4 linked regions of the Homo sapiens genome follow. The protein of the gene in region 1 binds, or shares a complex with, the protein of each later gene. Each region holds a gene or a part of one and is shown on either strand. Other genes may lie near its edges. The genes, in order: MED31, MED20, MED7 and MED16. A codon is read from its position in the direction of its gene.

Region 1 (7,817 bases):
TCTTCTGCAGACTGAATAAAACACCCAAAAGGGGCTAATTTGCAGTCTCTCTTGAATGTAAATATCTGGAAGGCTGTTGTCCTCAAGAGGGTATAGAATGGTTCTAGCTTCATCCAGGGACAAACAGACTGGGGCTACAAGGAGGTACATTATATCACAATATAAGGAAGAACTTTCTAATATCTGGCTAACAATCGAATCAGCTGTCCCTGACAGAGTAACACGGGCTCAATGGAAACCTCCAGAGTGTAGATGACCATCTCTCGGCAACGTTGTGGGTAAGATTAAACTTGTTGGTGGCTAAGGCTTCCAACACTGAGTCTGTAAATCTACATACATACAATATTCGTTGAAGTCTACTTTTCTTAAAAGTCTGTTCTTTGGATTATTAAATGGATAAAAAGCCAGAAAAGGTGCAAACGGTCCTGCAGGCAACATAAGACGTATGTGCTTCGTGAGTCAATTGTTATTGGACACAGAAAAGTGACTTTGAGAGAAGTTTGAAACATTTTCCTCTCAAACTTTTTTTTTTTTTTAAAGGTTCATTATTGCTTTCTACCTGCTTAAGACAAAGCAGGGGTGTGAGTTCAAGGTGGGTTGGTTTTTTTTGTTTTTTTTGTTTTTTTTTTTTAACCATTAAAAGGGAATTGCTTTGTGGTTATAATATGTTTCTTGCAACTTAGTAAGCCTTAACATGAAAGTGTCTGCTGAACGACCTGAATGGTAAATATATATATATAAATGAGTTAATGCATATGAAGCATTTAGCACTGTTCCTGGCAAATAAGAGGCCTTAAATAAAAGACAGCAACTCTAAGACTCAGGTAAGATCACCTCCTTCAAATAACCCCAGAAACACCTTCCTTACAGATACCCTCTTTTAATTTCAGCCCATGGCTTATGCTACTACATTTACAGATTGTGAGTTCTTAGGGACCAGAAACCTGGTGAGATGGGAAGGGTGGTAAAAGACAAGGTCAGAAAAGGCAGGGCCAGATCGTATAAGGCTTTAGTCCAAGAAAAAAGACTGGATTTTATTCTGCATGGAATGGAAAGCCATTGAAAGGTTCTAAGCAAGAAAGTAAAGTGTTCTGATTTATATTTTTAAAAGATTAAGCTGGTTTCTGTGTAGAAAGCTGTTTTGCTTGGTTTGGGTTGGGGTGGAGATGGGGGCAGGAAGGTAAAAGTGGAAGCACAGATAACCAGGGAGTAGATTACTGCAGTGTTACAAGTTAGAGATGAGGGTGTCTTGTATTAAGACGGTGATAACAAAAAGAAGTGGAGAGATTCCAAATACATTTTTGCCAATGTGAAACTAAGAAATCTATTATATAATAAAGTATACACATGCTTAGGATTATAAAAATTAAACTTACTTTAGATACTTGGCATATTCTGGGTCTTTCCAGTAAAGCAAGTATTTAAGATAATTAACAAAAGCTTTGTCTTTGAAGTAACCTCTTTGGGCAAGAACTGAAAAGCATTAAAAAAAAAAATCTGTAGGTCAAACCAATCCTTAAACTGTGATTTGTTACCCCTAATATAAAGGATCTATTTACATAACACCCCCACCACCAACACACATTGGATTCAAAACACAAGTCCCAGTACGCAATTATATCTATATACCAGCATAAGTGTAATGTCATTCAACTGAGAATGTGTAAAAGTAGATACTATTTTGAACTGCAACTCTTCTGTCAGAAATCATTAATAGCTACTCAATTTAATGAGGTGCTTAACAACTTACAATTAAGGTAATTTGGGTTGGCTAAACATTGCACAAATTCCAACTCCAACTGAAACCGAAGTCGATTTCCAGCATCATCTAGGAGACAAGACAGCAAAAATCATGGAAAACAAAGGTCACTGTATATAATACTGATTTGTAGTAAGGAAAGAGCAATAAAGAAACCTGACTAATGTTGAGATGGTCTTCCTAAACTAGGAGTGGGAGGAGATAAACCTTCCTTCGAAATCTAAGAAAAGCGGAGCCCTGATTAAAAGGAGTAAGTTAGAAGTTTCTCTAAAGTTAAAGAGAAATCATCAAAGAAAACAGCAACACAAACGGAGAATTCCTACCACTCGTGGGCCACTATGTAGGAATTTTAACAGTGATCACTAAGGTAGGCTGTAATAACTGTGGCTTCCCCTATTTTAATAATGCGTTGTAACAACTGTTAACAGTGATTAAGTTTCGCAAACGCTAGGGGCTGAATCAGTAAAGAAAAACTTAGGATGCAAGAGACTGCGGAGAGCCTAAAAGATCATGCAGCGCATGCATATAAGAAGCACCAGGGTCAGGAGATCGAGACCATCCTGGCTAACACAGTGAAACCCCGTCTCTACTAAAAATACAAAAAAAATTAGCCGGGAGCGGTGGCGGGCTCCTGTAGTCCCAGCTACTTGAGAGGCTGAGGCAGGAGAATGGCGTGAACCCAGGAGGCGGAGCTTGCAGTGAGCCGAGATCGCGCCACTGCACCCCAGCCTGGGCGACAGAGCCAGACGCTGTCTCAAAAAAAAAAAAAAAAAGAAGCACCAGTAGCAGAATGATACACAAGTCTGGCGACGATATTTCAAACTTAGGCAAGCTCATGTGAGAAGCAGAAAACCAATCAAGGAGGACACGGTTTAACACACAAGTCCTCTCCCTTAGTCTCACCCACGCCAGGGAGCTGGTGGGGTGGTGTCTGAATAGCAAAGATGTGCGAACAAACCAAATCAGGAAAACTGCAAAGAGTACCTTAGTCTTTCTAGACGCTACAAGAGCCTTCTCTCCTCTCTGTCCAAATATTAACCCTGCCAAGAGTAAGGCCTGGAAGGAGGCCACGGGGAAGAGGTCTGGGTCAAGGAGAGTTCCATCTGCGAAGACTCCAAGATCAGAGAGCTACTCACCTGTCTCCATAGCGACAGCAGCGGCCATAACAAACGAAGACACCAAAACGCCACCAGCCTGACAGAGCAAAAGCCCAGAGACGCGGGCGAAGTTCCGGAAACCACGGCTCCCTCTTCCGGTCCCGGGGCACTGTGGGATATGGGGCGGGGCGGCTCCGCCCATCCCCGACCAGCCCTGGGATGGCTCCACCCGCGCTGGCTCCAAAATAGCGAGGGGGCGGGGCCCGGGCCGTGGGAGCGCCTGAGGGGCAGGAGTCCAGTGTTTTAGCCTTCGAAGGACCATGGTGCTTCCACGTCATCGTGTTGTGGCGCTCCCGGCTATGGCAGTACCGTAGTTTTCCTCTCTTCTGCCTGCGGTGACCATTGGGCTGTAGGGTGCCCCGAGGCCTCCCTGGCCCCCTCACGCCGGCAGAATGGCCTCAGCCCGAGGGGCCAAGCAGTCTTCGCCCCGGGTGGGGACCACCCGCTACACAGAGACGTCCACGGTCCGCGTGGAGACCTCGTCCCACCGCGTGGAGACGTCGTCCCGGCGGGTGGAGACCTCCCAGCGCCGCAGCGAGGGGCCCTCCCTCTCCCCCTCGGGGAAGCGGCTCCCTCGCATCCTCGAGGCGTCCTCCCGGCACGTGGAATCCTCCTCGCAGCGCACGGAAACGACCTCCCGCCACGTCAGAGCCTCGTCCCTGAGGGTGGAGACGTCTCTGCACTGCGCGGAGAGCCCGACCCCGCGGGCCAAGCCGGCCGCCCGCCAGAACGAAAAAACGGCCCGATGAGATGCTGCTTCCCAAAGGCCACCAAGGGGCCAGGGCCCTCAGCCAGGACAGAAAGGCCTCCAGTTGCCAGCCAGCCAGCCAGCTGCCAGGTGGACCAATCATTTTCGGTTTCATGGAAACAAACCATAAATCAATGTAAGAAACAGCCAAGCCGCAGTTTCTGAACACAGCCAACGTTTACTGACCGTCCTGCGTCTTGGACCAGCCTACTTTTGACCCAGTGAACTATTTTCACTTGAAGCCAGCACAGAAGGTTTTCAGGCCCAGGATGCTGTCTAAATCGGGTTGATGGACAAAGAGAGGCTGTTTGAGCCTCTGAGCCAGGTGAGTTTGGGATCCACAGCCCTCAGAAAACCTTCACCCCTTAGGAACAGAGACCAAACTGAAATAATGACCTGTGGAATGATTCCATGCCTGCTAAAAACTCGAGGGACAAGGAACAGACTCATAAATTATTAATTGGCCTTTGTTTATGTTTCAAAGTAAATGGTCGTTTTCTTTATGCTAAGTCTTTGTACCTGGCACCCCCATCCATACACTTTTTTAAGGTAGGTTAGATGTGGTTAAAAATGACAGTAAACCCACCAGCAAGCAAAAATAATCTTAGAAAGTGAGAGGAGGTCACTGAAACCTGGCCTGAGGTTTGAAGAAGATGGAGAAGAGTTATATTTATTGAGAACCGGCTCTGTGCCAGGCACTAGATGTTCCTCCACTTACGATGGGGTTACCTCCCGTTGAAACTATTGTAAGTTGAAAATATGGTAATTTGAAAATGCACTTAATACCCCTAACCTACTAAACATCATGGCTTAGCCTAGCCTACCTTAAACATGCTCAGAACACCTAAAGTTGAGCAAAATCATCTAACAGAAAGCCTGTTTTATAATAAAATGTTGAATATCTCATGTAATTTATTGCATACTGTACTAAAAGTGAAAAAGAATGGTTGTAAGAGTACTTAAAGTACTATTTCTACTGAATGTCACTTTTGTACCATTGTAAAGTCGAAAAATCATAAGTCAAACCATCTTAAGTTGGGAACTGTCTGTATTCTGGGAACTTGGGCTATAGCAGTAAAAAAGGCAAAGTCCCAGCTCTAGTGGAGCTTACACTCTGGTGAAAAGGCAGACAAGCAATGATGAAACAAGACAATTTTCTATTGTGATTAGCACTATGAAGGAAATACATGGGTAATGTGATAGAGAATGGAAGTAAGTGGCTTCTTTTGATAAAATGGTCAGGGAAGGCCTTGCTGATTAGTTAACATGTAATCTGAGATATGTGTGAATGAACAGTGATCTGGAACAGGTGCATTCTAGGCAGAAGAACAGCAAATACAAAGGGTGGATGGGAACCAGCTTTGAATGTTCAAGGAACAGAAAGAAGGCCAGTGTGGCTGGAGTGAGAGAGAAGCAATTATATAGACATGGAAGCAGAACGGAAGAGAGGAGTTAAAAGCAAGCAGGGGCCAGTCCACAGAAGGTCTTCTAAGCCACAGTAAGGAATTTGAGATTATTCTAAGGTCAACAGGAAAACATTGAAGGGTTTCCAACAGGGGAACGACATGATGCCATTTACATTTAAAAAATATCCTTTTGGCTTCTGTGTGTAGAATGTGGGACAGTGGTTCTCAACTAAGTGTGATTTTGTCCCCCAGAGGATATATGGCAACCTCTAGAGACATTTTAGTTTGGTTGAAAAGTTGTTGGGAGGGGGTGGGTGGCACATTAGGTGCTACTGGCACCTAGCGGGTAGAGTCCGGGGATGCCACCTGACATCCTACAGTGCACAGGTCAACACCCTCCCCTCTGCCAACGATGAAGAATCACTGGTCCCAAAATGTCAATAGTGCCAAGGCTGAGAAACACTGACAGTTCTAGCAGCTTGGAAAGCTAGAGCATGGTCTACTGGGACAGCGCACCACTTTAAGGAACAGTCATGGAAGAGGGTTACCTTTAAAAGTAAAGAGAAATCATCAAAGAAAACAGCAACACAAATGAGACACAATACCTACCACTCATGGGCCACTATGTAGGAATTTTAACAGTGATCTCTAAGGTAGGCTGTAATAACTGTGGCTTCCCCTATTTTAATAATGCATTGTAACAATTGTTAACAGTGATTAAGTTTCGCAAAAGCACGTGCTGAATCAGTTAAGAAAAACTTAGGATGCAAGCTGAACAAGAGACTCCAGAGAGCCTAAAAGATGATGGAACATATGCATATATAAGAATCACAAGTAACACAATGATACACAGGTCTGGCGACGATATTTCAAACGTATGCAAGCTCATGTGAGAAGCAGAAAACCAATCAAGGACACGCTTTAAGACACAAGGAGGACACGCTTTAAGACACAAGTCCTCTCCCTTAGTCTCGCCCACGCTGGGAAGCTGGTGGGGTCGTGTTTGAATAGCAAAGGTGTGCGAACAAACCAAATTAGGAAAACTGCAGAGTACCTTAGCCTTTCTAGACGCTGCAAGAGCCTTCTCTCCTCCCTGTCCAAATACTAATCCTGCCGGGAGTGAGGCCTGGAAGGAGGCCCAGGGGAAGCGGGAGAAGAGGTCTGGGCCAAGGAGAGTTCTATCTGCGAAGACTCCAGGCTCAGAGCGCTACTCACCTGTCTCCAGGGCGACGGCAGCGGCCATAACAGGCAAAGACAGCGAATCGCCACCTGCCTAACAGAGGAAAAGCCCGGAGGGGCGGGAGGAGTTCCGGAAACCACGGCTCCCTCTTGCGGTCCCGGGGCACCGAGGAATATGGGGACGGTGGCTCCGCTCATCCCCGGCCAGGCCCGCTTAGCCCGCGCTGGCTCCGGAATGGCGAGGGGGCGGTGCCGGGCTGTGGGAGCGCCTGAGGGGCAGGAGTCCAGGGAGGCAGACTTTTACCCTCAAAAGGAATGAGTCCCAGAGCCTGGCACAAGGAAGACAAGTGTGCAAAGTTGGTGGAATGAATTCGGTGGCCTAAATGTACCTTCCTCAAATGCCACGGCTGACTGGGTCTCCTCGCCCACTTCACCCTCTCTTGCAATCCAACTTGTGAGGCGTGTGTGTGTGTGTGCATGTCCGCGCTTGCCTTTAGATGGAGGTTGGCTTCCCAGCCATCCAGGCTTGCATACACGTGCATAACTCCTACCCCTACCTCGCCTGCCTGCTGTACCAGGGGTTGATTCCTTCTTCCTGCGTGTTTTCTGTCCAAATCCTTTTCTGATTTGGACAGAAAACACGCAGGTGGCACACAGTAAGCGCTTAATAAATTTTCCGGCTACCTGATCTTCTTGGAATTGAGGGCATGCTCCTGTGCGCCCCTCATTGCACAGAGCTCCCTTGTCTGGAAACTCAGCAGTCACCGGAGCCGCCGTCGGTCCTCTCGCTTTCTCTATTTTAAAAAACGTTTCAACCGCTAGCGCTGTTGGATCTCTACCTTTCAGGCTTTATCACCTGGGGTGGAGTGGGTGGTGAGAGGGAAGGGATGGGGAGTCAAGACAGGAGAACGCTCTCGATTTCCCGACCCACCTCCCGTCATATCTCATGTCATATCTACCGGGTGTTCTACCCGGTCCTGTTACTTTTTTTCTTCCGCGAAAGCCCAAATTCCCATCACTGCTCTAGCTCTCTCCCAGATCGCCAAATCCGGATGTCTGTCTCAGGGAACGTCAAAGCAACATGCCCGGATGAGGTCCTCCCCTCTCCCCACCTCCCAGCCCTCTCCTCCTGCCTCCCCCGGTGTCACCCGCGCCTCCTTCCTCTCTTCACCTCCCTCTAAACAAGAATCCGGCGCAGTCAGTTCTAGACCCTGAGCATCTCCCGCGTCCCTGCCCAATATCCGTCCCGCCCCCGATCGCCCGCGTCCTCTTGAACCTGCGGAGCCCTGCTCCCCGCACTCCACGCCCTTGCTCCGAGCTTCCGAGAAAGCGGGGCAAAGGGAGCCAGAAAGAGAGAAAATGCGCACGGAGCAGGTGGCCCCGCGACTCCATGGTGAGGGGACGGGGCACGGAAGGTGGAAAGGCGCGCTCCCTCCTCCCTTTTTTCCTCCCTATGGTGGGCAGTTGGTGACACACAGTAAACGCTCAATAAATGTTTCCGCTACTCGATCTCCTTGGAATTAAGGGGATGCTCCTGAGCGCCCCTCATTCCACACAGCTCTGGTGCC
Region 2 (7,989 bases), on another chromosome or scaffold:
GTCTCCTAGGCAATAGCAAGAAATAATGCTAGGTACGTGGGAAAGGTGAAGCCAGACTGGAGGGCCTTTAAATTCAGGCAGTAGAGTTCAGATTTCAATCCACCAGTCCATTTAAATACATGAAGTTGGCTGGGCGTGGTGGCTCACGCCTGTAATCCCACCATTTTGGGAGACCAAGGCGGGTGGATCATGAGATTGGGAGTTCGAGACCAGCCTGACTAACAGGGAGAAGCCCCGTCTCTACTAAAAATACAAAATTAGCCGGGCTTGGTGGCGCATGCCTATAATCCCAGCTACTTGGGAAGGCTGAGGCATGAGAATCGCTTGAACCCGGGAGGTGGAGGTTGAGGTGAGGTGAGCCGAGATCGCGCCACTGCACTCCAGCCTGGGCAACAACAGCAAAACTCTGTCTCAAAAAAATAAATAAATAAATAAATAAAAATAAATAGGCCGGGCGCGGTGGCTCACGCCTGTAATCCCAGCACTTAGAGAGGCCAAGGCGGGCGGATCACGAGGTCAGGAGACCGAGACCATCCTGGCTAACACGGTGAAACCCCGTCTCTACTAAAAATACAAAAAATTAGCCGGGTGTGGTGGCGGGCGCCTGTAGTCCCAGCTACTCGGGAGGCTGAGGCAGGAGAATGGTGTGAACCCGGGAGGCGGAGCTTGCAGTGAGCCAAGATCGTGCCACTGCACTCCAGCCTGGGCGACAGAGCGAGACTCCGTCTTAAAAAAAAAAAAAAAAATGAAGTTAGTCCATTTAAATAACTTCTGTTTTTGGAAGGCTACATGTCTGGGCATCTGGAAAGGGGTCTAATAATCCAAGTGGGGAGCTATAATGCTACGTATCAATAGGTCATTAACAACAAAGGCAGTGTGTGATAAACACTAAATAAGGGGGAACAGACATTTTGTCTCCACGTTCCAACGGTCCCCCAAATTTGTACTTTGTAGGTGGTTCTCCTTAGTGCCAGACCCTAACTCCAGGTGTCTCCTGTAAGCTGCTCTTGGATGACTCACAGGCACCTCAAATCTCACCCGTTATCAACTAAACTAATTTTCTTTCCCTCCTAGGTCTACACTGCTAACCATCCACAGCTCAGTAAACGGCACCATCGTCCACCCAATGCTAAGCCTGGGAGGTACTCTTGCCTCATCCCCTGCCCTCACCCTCAACACCCAATCAATTACTAAATCATATTCAATTTTACCTCATAGACTGTCTCTCACATGCTTCACAGCCCCATCTAAGCCTAGATCAGCATCATCTCTTGCCTGGATTTATTCAACAGTCGCCCACTGGTCTCTATGTTTCTGACCTTGCTTCCCTCCAACTCATTTTCCACTCTGCAGACGGTCACCTTCCAGAAACACATATTTGATTTGATCAGCCCTGTCCTTAAAATTCTCCAGTAGCTTCCCATTCTTCCCACTGCTGTTAGGATGGTTTTAAAATCTTTTGTAGGCTTGGCTCCCACCTACCTGACCATCATTCATTACCGATTAACCCAGTCATTCAGCAAACACCAAGCACCTACTATATGTGAGGCACTGTTCGGGGTGCTGGCAATATATCCACGAACAACCGAAACCAAAAGACTTTGTTCTATACAGCTTACATTCTAATTGGAGGAGATAGTCTACGACCATACCACCCTGAACGCACCCAATCCTGTCTAAATGGAAGAGACAGACATAAATAAACATATAAATATATTGGGTTAAAAGATAAGTACTATGGGCTGGGTGCAGTGGCTCATGCCTGTAATCCCAGCACTTCGGGAGGCCGAGGCGGGTGGATCACCTGAGGTCAGGAGTTTGAGACCAGGCTGGCCAACATAGCGAAATCCCCAACTCTACTAAAAATACAAAAAAAAAAAAAATTAGCTGGGTGTGGTGGCGGGCGCCTGTAATCCCAGCTACTTGGGAGGCTGAGGCAGGAGAATCGCTTGAACCCGGGAGGTGGAGGTTGCAGTGAGCCGAGATCGTGGTATTGCACTCAGCCTGGGTGACGGAGCGAGACTCTGTCTCAAAAAAAAAAAAAAGATAAGTACTATGAAAAAAAGATAGGGCAGAAATGCTGGGAGTATGGAGATGGAGTAGAGTGCTGCAATCTTAAATGGAGTGGATAGGCCTCTCTGAGAAAGTAACCCTACAAGTGTATGAGAACAAACTATCCCAGAGAGAAGGAACAACCAGGCCAAACCCCCTAATTTCCCACGTTTAAGGCACAATGAAGCCTAAATAGGTGGAGTGGAATGGGCAAAGAGGAAAGCAGTAGAAGAGGTCAGACTGGCAAAGGAGGCAGATCATATAGTGCATTGTAGACCATTGTAATCCCCCACCTGTGAGTACTTTGTAGAGAGTATGAGACACGGCAGGGTGCAGTAGCTCACACCTGTAATCCCAGCACTTTGGGAGGCCAAGGCAGGGAGGGTCGTTTGAGCCCAGGAGTTTGAGACCAAACTGGGCACCACTGTGAGACCTCATCTCTACAAATAATTAAATAATTAGCGGCCAGGTGCGGTGGCTCACGCCTGTAATCCCAGCATTTTGGGAGGCAGAGGTGGACGATGACCTGAAGTCAGGAGTTCAAGACCAGTCTGGCCAACATGGTGAAACCCCATCTCTACTGAAAATACAAAAATTAACTGGATGTGATGGCTCACGCCTGTAATCTCAGCTACTCAGAAGGCTGAGGCAGAAGAATTGCTTGGACCTAGGTGGCAGAGGTTGCAGTGAGCCAAGATTGCGCCACTGCACTACAGCCTGGGCGACAGGCTCAAAAAAAAAAAAAAAGAATTAGTTGGACATGGTGGCACACACCTGTGGTCCCAGCTACGTGGGAGGCTGAGGTGGAAAGACGACTGGAGCCCAGGAGATTGAGGCTGCAGTTAGCTATGATTGTGCCACCGCACTCTATCCTGGGTGACAGAGAGAGAGAGAGACTCTGTCTCAAAAAAAAAAGAAAAAAAGAAAAAACGGAGAATATGAGATACTAACGAGGAGGCTACTGTGATAATCCAGGTGAGAGACTGTGGTGGCTACGACAGGATGGTGTTCCAAAGCGGTGAAAAGTGGTCTCATTTTGGATACACTTTGAAGGCAAAGTCATCAGAATTTCCTTACAGATCAGATGTGGGGAGGGAGAGACAGAGAGAGGAGATGGTGGGGGCAGGGAGAGAGAGGAGTCTAAAGTTTATCTCGAGCAAATGAAAGAATATGCTACTAACTGAGACAGGGAAGGCAATGGTGAGAGAAGCAGGTTTGGAGGGAAGGTCAGGATTTCTGTTTTGTACATGTTAAATTTGAGCTGTCTGTTAGATTTCAAATTGGAGATGCCAAATAGGCAGTTGAATATAAGAATCTGGATTTCATGGAAGAGATCAGGGCTAGACTATAAAGTTAGGAGTAGTCACTCAAGGATGGTATTTAAACCATGAAACTTGCCAGCACCAGAGAATATTTGAAGAGGTCAGAGGACTGAGGAGAAGAGGTTGCAATAAGAGTCAGCCAAGGATACTGAGAAGTGAGGTGGCAGTAAAACAGGAGTGTTGATGTCTTAGAACCCAAGTAAGGATACTGTGGCCAGAAGGCCACTATTCAATTGTGTCAAATATTGCTTTAGATGAGATCTGAGAAACGGATGAAGCACCTCAGAGGTCAACACTCCCTCCCTAGTGAGAAAACATCAGACGTCTTTCAATTCATCTCTCTCGCTCTTTGGCTGCTAAACAATGTGTTTTCTGCTCATAACACTTCCCATTCGTTTTTCAGTTCTCAGCTTAAAGGTCCTGCTGCAATCGGAGAAGCTTCTCAAGACCAATGCTATTGTTACCAGGGAAACGATACTTTATCATGGAAATATATTATTCTAAGAGTCTACTTAATTGCCTCTCTGCTGGGCTTGACTGTAAGGTCCTTAAGTTAGACGTGCCTGTGTTGTTTACTTCTGTACCCAAACATTCGATAGAATTCCGAGCATAGCGCAAAGCTCGTAGTGGGTATCCCATAAATATTTACAAAACCAATGGATACATGCTAGGAGCACTTAGTGGCGCGATCGATTACTGTTGGCCTAACTTCGGGGGTGTCTAGAAGGGAGTGCCTAAAACTAGGAGTGGACGCGGAGGGCTCTAGACAGGGTTCAGTCTCCTTTGCAAGTGTAATACGGACCCCTTTGTTGACTCGAAGCAATTCCCCTGCCAGACACTTTTTAGCTGCCCACCCCGCCCCACTACTGGCCACTGTCTTCCTCGGACCTCATCCCAGACACTCACCCAGCCGCGTGGTGCGTTCCCGCGGCGCCGCGGGCTTGTCCCCAGTCCCATGCTCGGCCTCGAGTTCCTCCTGTTGCTGCCGTGCTTGCTGCAAAATCCGTCGGCTCAGCCGGGGCCCCACATACTCTTCCTCCGCTTCTCCTGTCCCGCGACCCCGCCGCTTCTCCCGGACCCCCGCCCGCACCGCATTCCCAGCCAGGATCTGATCGGCCAGGGGCGCATGTTTTTCCTGACCCCCCACCCCACGGGCCGCCTTGAATTTGGGCATTTTTCTCGAAAAAGTTGCCGGGAAGGATCGCACGTGGGGACTGAAGAAAGGCCAGGATGCGCTTGCGCGGTGGACTCCCAGCGCCCAAGAGGCCGCCCGGCGATCACAGCGCCCCCTAGCATTCGGAGGCCAGAAGCGCCATCAGCGCCGCCCCTCCCACTAAAAGAGCTCCCGGGTTCCGGAGCTGGACTCCCGAATATATTCACTGCCTTTAACGTTAGCTTCTCTCAATAGTGCAGTCTTTGAGTGTCGCTCTCCTAGCTTCATGGATGTAGGCCTAGAGTGCTCAGCCAAACGGGAATGTCTGGATTTAGAAACCTCGGGGCGGGAATCCGCAGATGATGTCAGTGGAGGCGTCACCGAGGGGTGCCGAGACACGCCCCATTCCTTGGGGAAGGCGTGGACCCGGCGCTCTGTTTTTACGTATTTCCGGAGTCCCTTCTGAGACAGAAGGTTGTGTTGGGGAACTGAAGGAGTTTCTGTGGGCGGACAGGGAACCCTGCGTTTCTACTGTGTGATTCTGCCACCTTCCTGGCCCGACGCCATGGGAGTGACTTGGTAGGACTGCAGGGGGTTTTGTGGGGCGGGGCTTGGAGTTGTGAAAGGCCGGAAAGAGGACCTTGACCATGGTCCGCCGTCCTCTGGGAGCTGAGGGAGATGTCCTCGGGTTGTGTAGATGAGAGGATGCCGTCCGGGCTGCGGGTTCCCCGGGCTTGTTTCCTCAGAGATGCGCCCCTTCCTCTTGGAAGGCGGGAAAGCAAAGGTTTTTTTTTTGTTTTGTTTTGTTTTTTTTAAGACGGGGTCTCGCTCTGTCGCCAGACTGGAGTGCAGTGGAGCGATCTTGGCTCACTGCAACACTCCGCCTCTTGGGTTCAAGCGATTCTCCTGTAGTCCCGAGTAGCTGGGACTACAGGCGCCCGCCACCACGCCCGGTTACTTTTTGTATTTTTAGTAGAAATGGGGTTTCACCATATTGGCCACGCTGGTGTCGACAAAGCAAACTTTTTATCCCAGGAACCTATCAATGGTTGTATACCTCATTCTCTTCTGGATACATCTTCCTTCCCGTGAGGCCATAGTACTGCCTGCAGTGGGACCTCAGGGTTGGAAATAGGGTCTTTGGACTATGACCCACCTGCAGACAGGGTTGGAGGGAGTGGGCCATAAGCAATCAGGAGATAGTATTTTTTAAGATTTTCGCCTGCTCTTCCCTCAGCCATCAAATACAGTTAGACCCGCTTGTGTCTGTTTCTAATTTGCTCATTTTAAGATCTTGGGTCTAGAGGAAAAAAGGGTATTGATAATAAGGAGATCATGGTTCCAGGCACTTTATCTCTTTAGGACCCGTTTCCCACTATGTTTAATTCCATGGTTGGTCTAGTTTCAATGGAGTTTTTATCTTTCATATGTTTTAAGTCTCAGTTGAAAGAAGATGAGGTGGCAGGGAAAGGTATGGGTCCAGTGCTCGTGGAGGCGTTAGTTGTAAGGTGCCAGGTCCCAGAACATTTTTTTCTTATCTCAGTAGATGTGAGCATTTTTCCCGTGGGAGAAATCCGGAGGCCAGGATATTTGAAGCCAGTGGATATAGGCTTCTCATACAAAAGCATGTGTAGGGGAAATACTTTTCCTCCTGGTAGCCCAGGTTCTTGCAGGTTTCTCAGTGATTGCACTCTTGCTTCCTACGATTGACACGATCCTCCTGTGTTCCTTAATGGAAGCAAGATATGTGAGGAATGGAAATGGAAAGGATGCAGCGTAGAACCCTGGAACCCTTGCTCTTTCTTTTTTTTAAAGAAATAGAAATGGGGTCTTGCTGTTTTGTACATGCAGGTCTTGAATTCCTGAACTCAAGCGAGCCTCCTGCTTTGGTCTCCCAAAGTATTGGCATTATAGACATGAGCCACCGTGCCCAGCCACCCCTGCTCTTTAAATGGAGAAGGCAGCTCCAGGGAAAGGGCTCTCTGTTGGCCCCCTTATCAACGTTTTCAGAATCCTAGGACTTCTGTCACTTGTAGCGTCAGTTTAGGGATTCTTTTGTATTTCAAAATAAGGCACATTAGCAACATCGTTTATCAGTGTTTTTTTCTGATAGAGTAGTGACAATTTTTAGCAACAGAAGGACTCTACCTTAATAGATTCATTTAGTTGATCATAAAGCAATGTCATCTATGACTGTTTTCTTGATTTCTATATAGCTAAGTACTGCTTGTACTATTGTTTATTAATTTTTTAATCGATTTTCCTTAATGTTTTAACAGGCACTACATCCTTATACAGGCAGTCTAGTTAGTGGTTAAGAGCATGGACATCAAGCCAGGTTGCTGGGCTTTGAGTCTTGAGTGTACCACCCATTAACTGTGTGACCTAGTGCAAGTTATTTAACCTCTTTGTGCTGTACTTAAGTTTCCTCTTTTTTTTTTTTTTTTTTTTTTTTGAGGCAGAGTCTCACTCTGTTGCCCAGGCTGGAGTGCAGTGGCGTGATCTCGGCTCACTGCAAGCTCCGCCTCCCGGGTTCATGCCATTCTCCTGCCTCAGCCTCCCGAGTAGCTGGGACTACAGGCGCCCACCACCATGCCTGGCTAATTTTTTTGTATTTTTTTTTTTTTTTTGAGACGGAGTCTCGCTCTGTCGCCCAGGCCGGACTGCGGACTGCAGTGGCGCAATCTCGGCTCACTGCAAGCTCCGCTTCCCGGGTTCACGCCATTCTCCTGCCTCAGCCTCCCGAGTAGCTGGGACTACAGGCGCCCGCCACCGCGCCCGGCTAATTTTTTGTATTTTTAGTAGAGACGGGGTTTCACCTTGTTAGCCAGGATGGTCTCGATCTCCTGACCTCATGATCCACCCGCCTCGGCCTCCCAAAGTGCTGGGATTACAGGCGTGAGCCACCGCGCCCGGCCATTTTTTTGTATTTTTGGTAGAGACGGGGTTTCACCGTGTTAGCCAGGATGGTCTTGATCTCCTGACCTCGTGATCTGCCCGCCTTGGCCTCCCAAAGTGCTGGGATTACAGGCGTGAGCCACCGTGCCTGGCCAAGTTTCGTCTTTTTTTTTTTCTTTTTGAGATGGAGTTTCGCTCTTGTTGTCCAGGCTGGAGGGCAGTGGTGCGATCTTGGCTCACTGCAACCTCCGCCTCCTGGTTTCAAGTGATTCTCCTGCCTCAGCCTCCCATGTAGCTGGGATTACAGGCGCACACCACCATGCCTGGCTAAGTTTTGTATTTTTGGTAGAGACAGGGTTTCACCATGTTGGCTAGGCTGGTCTCGAACTCCTGACCTCAAGTGATCCGCCCACCTCGGCCTCCCAAAGTGCTGGGATTACAGGCGTGAGCCACCATGCCCGGCAGTTTCCTCATTTGTAACAAGTTGATAAATAACACACCTTCATAGGACTATCGTGAGGATTTGGAGAGTTAATTCATCTAAAGGCCTTAGGATGCAGTCTG
Region 3 (2,971 bases), on another chromosome or scaffold:
TCCCTATGCTAGAAACCAGGGGCTAAGGAAGAAATAAAAAAGTAGACATCTGGGGAAAGGCATTGCCTCTCAATGGTTCTTTTTTGTTTTTGAGATGGAGTTTCGCTCTTGTTGCCTAGGCTGGAGTGCAATGGTGCAATCTCAGCTCACCACAACCTCTGCCTCCCAGATTCAAGTGATTCTCCCTGCCTCAGCCTCCCGAGTAGCTGGGATTACAGGCATGCGCCACCAAGCCCAGCTAATTTTGTATTTTAGTAGAGATGGGATTTCCCCATGTTGGTCAGGCTGGTCTCGAACTCCTGACTTCAGGTGATCCACCAGCCTCAGCCTCCCGAAGTGCTGGGATTACAGGAGTGGGCCACTGCACCCAGCCTCAATGTTTCTTAATCTTGAGCATGTATCATAATCACATAGGCTTCTTAAAATACAGCTTGCTGGGACCTACACCCAGAAGTTTCTGGTTCAAAAGGTCTGGGATGGAGCCAGAGAACCCTCATTTATTTTTTATTTTTCTGAACCTACGGATTATACTAAAACTTTTATTTCTAGTAAGTCCCCAAGTGATACCAATGCTGCTGGTCCAGGACCACACACTTTAAGAACCACGGGCCTACATTAAGAAAACGGCAGGCAGAGATCCTCAGACACAAGGTCAACTCTCCACTAACACCTTGGTGGAAGAGCAGATGGACAGTCGGGGGAAGAAGAGAAGAAAGTGCTCATATAAAGTCCAATTAGCTAGGGGCAGAGTGGAGTTACTGAAAGGAAGACTTAGTCCTCACGGTCATTCAAAGAACCAGACTGACAATCTTTGCCATCTTCGGTGGCTTCCAAACTTATCCTGGATACGACCGTCCAACCAGCAGCTGGGAGAAGAGAATGGAGGATCATGCAAGAAATGTTTATGGGGCAAGCCTGGATTCCTATGCCCACATTTCACCGCCTACGACTTAGTCATATGTTCTCACAGAGATGCTGGGAGTAGGGAAATGTCCCTGGCTGGATTGCCACATCTTGACAACATATCTTCAAAGAGCAAGAATCTTTGGTAGACACCTAGCAGTCTCTGCCATCAAACCCCTTTCCCATTGTGGACTTAAACAAGTCTGAGCTTAGCTTTAAAGAAAATGTATAGCTAATGACACAGACATCTTAATTACTAAAATTAATGTCTGTAACTTAAAGTGACCAAAGGACTTATTACCTGAGTGACTGGAAAAAAAAACAACAATTTATGGGACTTCCCTGCAAGAGTCCATTCAGGATAGGGAGAAAAGACTGAGCTAGTGGGTTTACAGAAGCAGTCATGAGGAAAAAATGAAGTTTCTATTTTATAACTCTACTGGGCTCCTCTCTATCAACATGTTATGCTACTTTTTGGAGCTTAAGCAAAATTTTTAATGGAATAAGTCTAAAGATTTCATAGTTTTACATGTAGAGAGCTTAATATCCATTTATCTATCATTCTTAAAGCAAATGCTAAATCCCCTTTTCAAAGACGAAAACTTTGCTATTATTGAGGTTATCATCAAAGTTTTACTGCAACTCTAAAACATAGGAATGTCCCATACAACAGCAGCTAACACTTTGCTTTTTAAAGTGATTCTTCTTAGTGCAGGGACACTCATTTGTCTATGCTTGTTATACAGCGAAATTACTGCCTATGACATCTCATAATTGAAAAATTTGGAGTCAAGATTAAAGCTGTTTACATTTTTAGTGAAACTTCTCTTAAGACTGTCCAAAAGAAAATGAACTAATATATGATGCTATTATCAAAAGGAAAAAAAGAAAAAGAAACATCTTTCATGGTCTTTCATTCATCTCATCAATTAGGACACACAAGGCAGCATCTTTCTCTATAATCTGATCTCTCCTATGACCTGAATTTTCTCTTTGATGTTCATTCTGTCCAGTACAATTGTTGCTATCATCAGCATCCATTGGTTCAGTTTTTACTCTCATTCCTGCTTCTGAATGAGGCAAATCATCAGGCAAAGAAGCCAAGCAATTCTGAATCATTTCAATTACTCGTTCCAGGTGCTTTTGAAATCTCTCAGCTGTTTCAAGCCGTTGACGTTTCTGGACCTCCATCATGACTCTCAAGGTCTCTCTTGCTTGGTGGGGTCGGTATTCATTTATAAGATGATGCACGTGTACAAAAAGCAGCTTAAGATCTTCTAGTTTCTCTTCTCGTTTTATACTCCCAGGGCTCCTTATTAAAATATCTAAAAGGTCCAAGAAATTAATAAGGATAGACATATTAAGTTTTCTCAGTTCTTTCTTGTGATCAAACTGCATAGGATGAAGCCGTTCGATGCCCTGACTTTCCAAAGGGCGGATGATAAGATCATCACATTGGAACTGATTGCCAAACATCATGTAACTGTCTTTTATTGGAGGGGGAGGCTTGGGAGCTAAGCCTTCTTGAATATTTTCATCCGTATATTCCTTGATATATTGCATTGGAGGTGGTGGAAGTGCACTCACTTGCTGTGGTTCACCCATTGTGGACTATCAAGAACCTATGGACACAGACCAAAGATTTATTAGAGCCACAAGACAAACCTGTTACATTTCATAACTACAGATGGAATATTTTCTTCCTTTTCTTCCAGCAGTTTGGGGCCGAAGACAAGATGATCTCCTTGGTTTCTAAAACTAACATTTATGATAGGGAAAGTCTGCCATCTTTTCTAAGTAGGCATTATATTCTCAACCATTCACATATTTTCCATTCTCTCTCTAATAATTTCATCAGCATTAAAAAATATGTAGCATCCTCTCATCTCTAAAGAAAATCTTCTGGACTCCATGCCCCTCACCACTTATGCCCCATTTCTTTACTCTTCCATAACCAAACTACACAGGCTGTCTCCCAATCTCATATCACAATCACTTTTGTTTTATGTTATAGATTTATTTCCAATAGCAAACACTTACTTGTATCTCTCATAAACACTCTGACAAA
Region 4 (7,029 bases), on another chromosome or scaffold:
TTCACCCACTGCCCCACATCCCCACTTAGCAGCTTAGCTTCTCCCTGCCTCAAGTCCCCCCTCATTTAGGAATGCTGACCGCAGCCGTCAGTTGGATGGAGGAGGGGATGTAAATCGTGCTGTGAGGGTACCCTGGCCACTAGCTGGGGGTGTGGTCGTCATGGCAGCTGCCTCCCCCGGCGCTGGGGCGTTGAGTTTCCTGTCTTTCCTATGAGAGGCTCAATTCCATGAGGGCCAGCCACCCCTGACCACTGTGTGCCCTCTGGGCGTCTCAGCCACTCTCTGGGCCTGTTTCCCCCCAGGGAATGCTGCTCACAGGACCCCTATACGGGTTTGCAGGAGGTCAAGGCTCTGTGACCGTGATGGCCCGTCCGGGGCAGAGACCTCATGATGCGGGTGGCACAGAGCAGCTGCGTGGTAGTCAGCTTCAGCCGAGTAACAAGCCAGCCCCAAACTGAGCAGCTCAGGCCAGCAGCCCTGCACTGTTTCTGTTTCTGTGGCTGCCTCAGCTGCGCTCTCCTGGTTCCCACGTGTCTGCGGTTAGCAGCCGAGGTGGCGTGGCCTGTCCACTGGCCGCACATGCTCCAGCAGGCCGGCTCCAGCTGCCCTCCGTGTCCCACATGCAGCCACAGCAGGACCCCCCACACGTGCTCTCTGGGCCACTGTTTTTGTTTTTTGTTTTTGAGCTAGGCTCTTGCTGTGTTGCCCAGGCTGGAGTGCAGTGGCGTGATCTTGGCTCACTGCAGCCTCATCTTCCTGGGCTCGAGCAATCCTACCTCAGCCTCCTGAGTAGCTGGGACTACAGGCGTGTGCAGGCGTGCATCACCACCACACACAGCTAATGTTTACTGTGTTTTTTTTGTAGAGAATGGGGTCTTGCTGTGTTGTCCAGGCTGGTCTTGAACTCCTGGACTCAAGCCATCCTCTGGCGTTGGCTTCCCAAAGTCTTGGGGTGGCAGATGTGAGCTGCTGTGCCCGGCCATGTCACATTTGCTAAGGCTTGGCCTGAGATTCCCAGAAGTCTCTGCCCTGTTGGGAGGAGCTGCGTCTTCACGCAGGGGCTGTCAGGCAGCGGATCTGTGGGTGCGACCATCCCGCATGGCTTTATTGGAATTGTAGATGAGGAGGGATGGGAATCCCGGCTGAGCTGGCTAAGGCCGAGCGAGTGTTAGGGTTTGCATGGCTGCAGGTCTGAGGTGGCGCCGTCTCCCCACTGTCTGCCCCATCGGGGGTGAGATGGTGCCGGCCCACAGGTTTCCATGAAATCCCAGGGCCCACCTTGGGTCACGTGCCCATCCTGGAACCAATGAGTGGCCGAGGCACGAAGCGCTCGGATTGGCCGGGCCTGGTCTTCTGGGCATGGGAGCAGGGCGGCATGAGACCTGGGAAGGGCCCTGGGCAGGTTGCACACCAGGCCATGCTGGACTCCTGCGGCTGTCTCAGCCTGTCTTTACTCCATTGCCTTCCTGTTTTCCTGCCCCTGATTTTTCAGTTGGCGACAAACAGCCCACAATTCTCAAATGGCGGATCCTATCGGCCACCAACGATCTGGACCGTGTGTCGGCCGTGGCGCTGCCCAAGCTGCCCATCTCGCTCACCAACACCGACCTCAAGGTGGCCAGCGACACACAGTTCTACCCTGGCCTCGGTACGGTGGAGCCAGCGGCAGCCACGCGGGGCCTCAGTTCACACCAGGGGAGTTGGGCCCTGAGCACAGGCCACGGGGTCGTGGGAGCTCACACCAGAGGACGTGGGCTCTGAGCACAGGCCATGGGGCTGTAGGAGCTCAGCCTTCTGGGTTCTGATGGGTTCCCAATTAGGAGGCAGATCTCATCTTTCGGGATCTGTGAGGCTGGCAGACAGATCCAGTGTTCTTTAATATGTAAAGAGTCATTGCAAATCAACAAGGGAGCCTGGGGAACTTGGTGGAACTCCTTCCTGGGTAGGCGGCATGTGTCCTCTCTGTGCTGCAGCAGCCATAATGTGGTCCTGAGCTCAAACCGTGGCATCCGTGCCCATGAGTGAGTCTGCACACTCTTCAGTGCCTACCCTATTTGCTCAGCTGTAAAATGTGGACAAGTCGGCCCTAGCTCAGGCCCTTTCTTCCCCCAGCTCCCGTTCTTCCCTGGTTCCCTGGAAAGAGCATTTATCAAAACCCGCTCGGGGCTCAGGGCTGTTCCTCAGAGCCTGCAGAGAGGTTGAGGGGATGCAGTTCCCTGCTCCAAAACCCTTGGTTTATGCTCCATTTTCCAGGCTCTATTTTTTTTTTTCTTTTTTTTTTTGAGTTGGAGTCTCATTCTGTTGCCCAGGCTGGAGTGCAGTGGTGTGATCTCGGCTCACTGCAACCTCCGCCTCCTGGGTTCAAGCGATTCTCCTTCCTGCCTCAGCCTCCCGAGTAGCTGGGACTACAGGCGCGTGCTGCCACGCCCGGCTAATTTTTTGTATTTTAGTAGAGACGGGGTTTCACCGGTGTTGCCCAGGCTGGTCTCGAACCCCTGAGCTCAGGCAATCTGCCCGCCTCAGCCTCCCAAAGTGCTAGGATTACAGGCGTGAGCCACCGCGCCCGGCTTTGCAGCCTCTCTACTGCAGGGACTCCTTTCATATTCTCTTTTCCATGAGCTTTGGGCTCTGGACCCCACCTCCCCCCGGCCCTCGTACAATGGCAGACCCCAGTGTGAGTGACAGCCCCAGCCCACCACCCTAAGATGCCTCTCTTTGGGACGCCAGGAGCCCCAACCCTTGGTCCCCCACCTGTAGTGCCCCCCTCCCCTGCGCTCCTTGAGGGGCGTGTCAGCCAGGACATGGGCCCAGCTGGGAGGGGCGGGGAGGGGCTGGGAGCAGTGTGGCCAAGGCTGCTGGCTCCTGCTCCCCTGGTGCTCAGGGACTGTGTAACTAAAGAAAGAGTGGCTGGGGGCACGGGCGCTGGATGCCGATTGGCGGGGGCTGACCCCCTGGATGGGCAGCCCCGGCTCTCCACACCCTGCAGAGCAGGAGGCCCCTCCCCCGGCGGGCGTGTCCTGGGCCCTGCCCATGTCTAAGCAGTGCCTGTGCCCCACAGGGCTGGCCCTGGCCTTCCACGACGGCAGCGTCCACATCGTGCACCGGCTCTCACTGCAGACCATGGCCGTCTTCTACAGCTCCGCGGCCCCGAGGCCTGTGGATGAGCCGGCCATGAAGCGCCCCCGCACCGCGGGCCCCGCCGTCCACTTAAAGGCTATGCAGCTATCGTGGACGTCACTGGCCCTGGTGGGGATTGACAGCCACGGGAAGGTGAGCTGCTGGGGCACGTGGGGCCGGGGCTGGTGGGCATTGACAACCAGGGGAAGGCGAGCTGCTGGGCATTGACAACCAGGGGAAGGTGAGCTGCTGGGGCACGTGGGGCTGGCCCTGGTGGGGATTGACAGCCAGGGGAAGGCGAGCTGCTGGGGCACGTGGGGCTGGGGCTGGTGGGCATTGACAACCAGGGGAAGGCGAGCTGCTGGGCATTGACAACCAGGGGAAGGCGAGCTGCTGGGGCACGTGGGGCTGGGGCTGGTGGGCATTGACAACCAGGGGAACGTGAGCTGCTGGGGCACGTGGGGCTGGGCTTGGGGGGCATTGACAACCACGGGAAGGTGAGCTGCTGGGCATTGACAACCAGGGGAAGGCGAGCTGCTGGGGCGTGGCCCTGGTAGGCATTGACAACCAGGGAAAGGCGAGCTGCTGGGGCACGTGGGGCTGGGGCTGGTGGGCATTGACAACCAGGGGAAGGCGAGCTGCTGGGGCACGTGGGGCTGGGGTTGGTGGGCATTGACAACCAGGGAAAGGTGAGCTGCTGGGGCATGTGCGGCTGGGGCTGGTGGGCATTGACAACCAGGGGAAGGTGAGCTGCTGGGGCACGTGGGGCTGGGCTTGGTGGGCATTGACAACCATGGGAAGGTGAGCTGCTGGGCATTGACAACCAGAGGAAGGCGAGCTGCTGGGGCATGTGGGGCTCGGCTTGGTGGGCATTGACAACCATGGGAAGGTGAGCTGCTGGGCATTGACAACCAGGGGAAGGCGAGCTGCTGGGGCACGTGGGGCTGGGGCTGGGGCTGGGGCTGGGGGGTATTGACAACCAGGGGAAGGCGAGCTGCTGGGGCACGTGGGGCTGGGGCTGGGGCTGGTGGGCATTGACAACCGGGGGAAGGTGAGCTGCTGGGACATGTGGGGCTGGGGCTGGGGCTGGTGGGCATTGATAGCCAGGGGAAGGTGAGCTGCTGGGGCACGTGGAGCTGCGGCCGGGGCCGGGGCCGGGGCCGGGGCCGGGGCTGGTGGACATTGACAACCAGGGAAAGGTGAGCTGCTGGGGCACGTGGGGCTGGGGCTGGGGCTGGGGCTGGTGGGCATTGACAACCAGGGGAAGGGGAGCTGCTGGGGCACGTGGGGCTGGGGCTGGTGGGCATTGACAACCAGGGGAAGGGGAGCTGCTGGGGCACGTGGGGCTGGCCCTGGTGGGGATTGACAACCAGGGGAAGGCGAGCTGCTGGGGCACGTGGGGTTGGGGCTGTTGGGCATTGACAACCAGGGGAAGGTGAGCTGCTGGGGCACGTGGGGCTGGGGTTGTGGCTGGTGGGCGTTGACAACCACGGGAAGGTGAGCTGCTGGGGCATGTGGGGCTGGGGCTGGGGCTGGTGGGCATTGACAACCACGGGAAGGTGAGCTGCTGGGGCACGTGGGGCTGGGGCTGGTGGGCATTGACAGCCAGGGGAAGGTGAGCTGCTGGGGCACGTGGGGCCGGGGCCGGGGCCGGGGCTGGGGCTGGTGGACATTGACAACCAGGGAAAGGTGAGCTGCTGGGGCACGTGGGGCTGGGGCTGGGGCTGGGGCTGGTGGGCATTGACAACCACGGGAAGGTGAGCTGCTGGGGCACGTGGGGCTGGGGCTGGTGGGCATTGACAACCAGGGGAAGGCGAGCTGCTGGGGCCCGTGGGGCTGGGGCTGGGGCTGGGGCTGGTGGGCATTGACAACCAGGGGAAGGTGAGCTGCTGGGGCACGTGGGGCTGGGCTCGGTGGGCATTGACAACCACGGGAAGGTGAGCTGCTGAGCATTGACAACCAGGGGAAGGTGAGTTGCTGGGGCACGTGGCGCTGGGGCTGGGGCTGGGGGGCATTGACAGCCAGGGGAAGGCGAGCTGCTGGGGCACGTGGGGCTGGGGCTGGGGCTGGTGGGCGTTGACAACCACGGAAAGGTGAGCTGCTGGGGCACGTGGGGCTGGGGCTGGGGCTGGGGCTGGTGGGCATTGACAACCACGGGAAGGTGAGCTGCTGGGGCACGTGGGGCTGGGGCTGGTGGGCATTGACAACCAGGGGAAGGCGAGCTGCTGGGGCATGTGGGGCTGGGCTTGGTGGGCATTGACAACCACGGGAAGGCGAGCTGCTGGGGCACGTGGGGCTGGGGCTGGGGCTGGGGCTGGGGCTGGTGGGCATTGACAACCAGGGGAAGGTGAGCTGCTGGGGCACGTGGGGCAGGGGCTGGTGGGCATTGACAACCAGGGGAAGGCGAGCTGCTGGGGCACGTGGGTCTGGGGCTGGGGCTGGGGCTGGGAGGGTGCCAGAGGGAGGCGCCCCCGGGGGAAGGGACCACAGGTGCAAGCCCCTCGCCAGCCCCTGCCTGCGCTGCCTTGTCTGTGTGATGGGTTCGTCTTGTTGAGCGAGGTCAGTGGGGTGGCTCACAGCACGTATTAGGAGCTTCGTAACTAGGAGCTGTTGAGAGGACCGCCTTTCACGGGGTAGACTCCTCAGGTAAAGCAGACGAGTGTAAGCCTGGCTCGGCATCCAGTGCAGTCGGGGCTCAGGGAGGTTTCCTTCCCTGTTCCCAGAGGCATTGTGCATGACCCTGACAGAAAGGTACAGACGCTACAGACACATGCGCGCACACAGGCCCACACACGGGCGTGCGCGCACACAGATCCACACACGTGCCGCAGCCCCAGGGCCCCATTCCTCTCCCGGCTGAGGGCGCAGCCCCATCTCACCGGGCTCTCCTTGGGCTCTGTCTCTGGCAGCTGAGCGTGCTCCGCCTCTCACCTTCCATGGGCCACCCGCTGGAGGTGGGGCTGGCGCTGCGGCACCTGCTCTTCCTGCTGGAGTACTGCATGGTGACCGGCTACGACTGGTGGGACATCCTGCTGCACGTGCAGCCCAGTATGGTACAGAGCCTGGTGGAGAAGCTGCACGAGGAGTACACGCGCCAGACCGCTGCCCTGCAGCAGGTGGGGGCCCGTGGCAGGTGGGGCCCCGTGGCAGGTGGGGGCCCTGTGGCAGGTGGGGGCCCCGTGGCAGGTGGGGCCCCGTGGCAGGTGGGGGCCCCGTGGCAGGTGGTCCCGTGCCAGGTGGGGCTGTCCCTGTGGCAGGCAGGGGCCCCGTGGTCAGTAAAGTGCCAGCAGCAGGGAGGGAGTTCCCTTGGAGGGTGGAGGAGGTCTCTGCAGCAGTTGTAGAGGTCCCCACGGCAGATGTGGGGGTTGTGGCAGCTGGAGGGGTTTCCCTGCGGCAGGTTGGGGGCTCTATGGCAGGCGGAGGGCAAGAGGGGCAGGTAGCCTGTGGCAGGTGAGGCTGCGTGTGGGGTGTGCTCCCAGAGGCCCGTCCAGGAAAGCTGCACCTCAGAGAAGCAGTTTCCTTCCTTACCTGGGAAGTTTCTTCTGTAACACGTTAAGCCCCACAGGTAAGGCCTGATCCCCCCTGGACGGCTCCCCTCTCCAGTGTTCCCAGTCTGGAGGTATCTTTCTAAGCCATCCTCTCAGAATGTGATGGGTACCAGGATGCACACCCGGTGGCCCTGTGGTGTGAGGCCTCAGCAAACACGGTCAGAAGATGAACACACAGAGACCCGCCCGTCGGAAGGAGAGGAGGGAGCGGATACGGAGGCCCACGTGCCAGAAGGGTCCCTTGCAGTGGTGTGGTTATGTGCCTGCAATCCCAGAGTGTCCTCGAAGGACCTCAGATCTAACGAGCTCAGCCGGCAGCTGCACGTGGGACCAGCCCTCTGAGCTTCACTTGTTTTCCTCTGTG

What was found.
Region 2: MED31 (region 1) and MED20 share a complex: the UniProt entries of both Homo sapiens proteins name them as parts of the mediator complex.
Region 3: the proteins of MED31 (region 1) and MED7 are in contact, whole or in part, in a cryo-EM structure (PDB 7EMF), measured with the Homo sapiens proteins. Residues at the interface, in NP_057144.1 of Homo sapiens: Asn14 (codon at 1,817), Arg15 (codon at 1,814), Leu16 (codon at 1,811), Arg17 (codon at 1,808), Phe18 (codon at 1,805), Gln19 (codon at 1,802), Leu20 (codon at 1,799), Glu21 (codon at 1,796), Leu22 (codon at 1,793), Glu23 (codon at 1,790), Phe24 (codon at 1,787), Gln26 (codon at 1,781), Tyr33 (codon at 1,760), Phe36 (codon at 1,751), Leu37 (codon at 1,471), Tyr42 (codon at 1,456), Asp45 (codon at 1,447), Ala47 (codon at 1,441), Phe48 (codon at 1,438), Asn50 (codon at 1,432), Tyr51 (codon at 1,429), Tyr54 (codon at 1,420), Tyr57 (codon at 1,411), Glu62 (codon at 1,396), Tyr63 (codon at 1,393), Lys65 (codon at 1,387), Tyr66 (codon at 1,384), Lys68, Tyr69; in NP_001094286.1 of Homo sapiens: Met15, Gln16, Tyr17, Ile18, Lys19, Tyr21, Thr22, Asn25, Ile26, Lys33, Pro34, Pro35, Pro36, Pro37, Ile38, Lys39, Asp40, Tyr42, Met43, Met44, Phe45, Gly46, Gln48, Gln50, Asp52.
Region 4: MED31 (region 1) and MED16 share a complex: the UniProt entries of both Homo sapiens proteins name them as parts of the mediator complex.

What each region holds. Positions count from the first base shown.
Region 1 is NC_000017.11:6,648,606-6,656,422, forward strand, and holds the start of MED31 (mediator of RNA polymerase II transcription subunit 31), read right to left. Parts: upstream 3,001-7,817; 5' UTR 2,924-3,000; coding exon 2,896-2,923; intron 1,829-2,895; coding exon 1,751-1,828; intron 1,474-1,750; coding exon 1,377-1,473; intron 1-1,376. Other genes in the region: uncharacterized protein C17orf100, read left to right, coding at 3,309-3,665. UniProt on the Homo sapiens protein: Component of the Mediator complex, a coactivator involved in the regulated transcription of nearly all RNA polymerase II-dependent genes.
Region 2 is NC_000006.12:41,918,122-41,926,110, reverse strand, and holds the start of MED20 (mediator of RNA polymerase II transcription subunit 20), read left to right. Parts: upstream 1-4,971; 5' UTR 4,972-5,092; coding exon 5,093-5,106; intron 5,107-5,167; exon of another isoform or gene 5,168-5,311; intron 5,312-7,989. Other genes in the region: BYSL (bystin), read right to left, coding at 4,281-4,548. UniProt on the Homo sapiens protein: Component of the Mediator complex, a coactivator involved in the regulated transcription of nearly all RNA polymerase II-dependent genes.
Region 3 is NC_000005.10:157,136,924-157,139,894, forward strand, and holds the end of MED7 (mediator of RNA polymerase II transcription subunit 7), read right to left. Parts: intron 2,526-2,971; 5' UTR 2,509-2,525; coding exon 1,807-2,508; 3' UTR 501-1,806; downstream 1-500. UniProt on the Homo sapiens protein: Component of the Mediator complex, a coactivator involved in the regulated transcription of nearly all RNA polymerase II-dependent genes.
Region 4 is NC_000019.10:876,178-883,206, reverse strand, and holds part of MED16 (mediator of RNA polymerase II transcription subunit 16), read left to right. Parts: intron 1-1,492; coding exon 1,493-1,648; intron 1,649-3,058; coding exon 3,059-3,270; intron 3,271-6,026; coding exon 6,027-6,233; intron 6,234-7,029. UniProt on the Homo sapiens protein: Component of the Mediator complex, a coactivator involved in the regulated transcription of nearly all RNA polymerase II-dependent genes.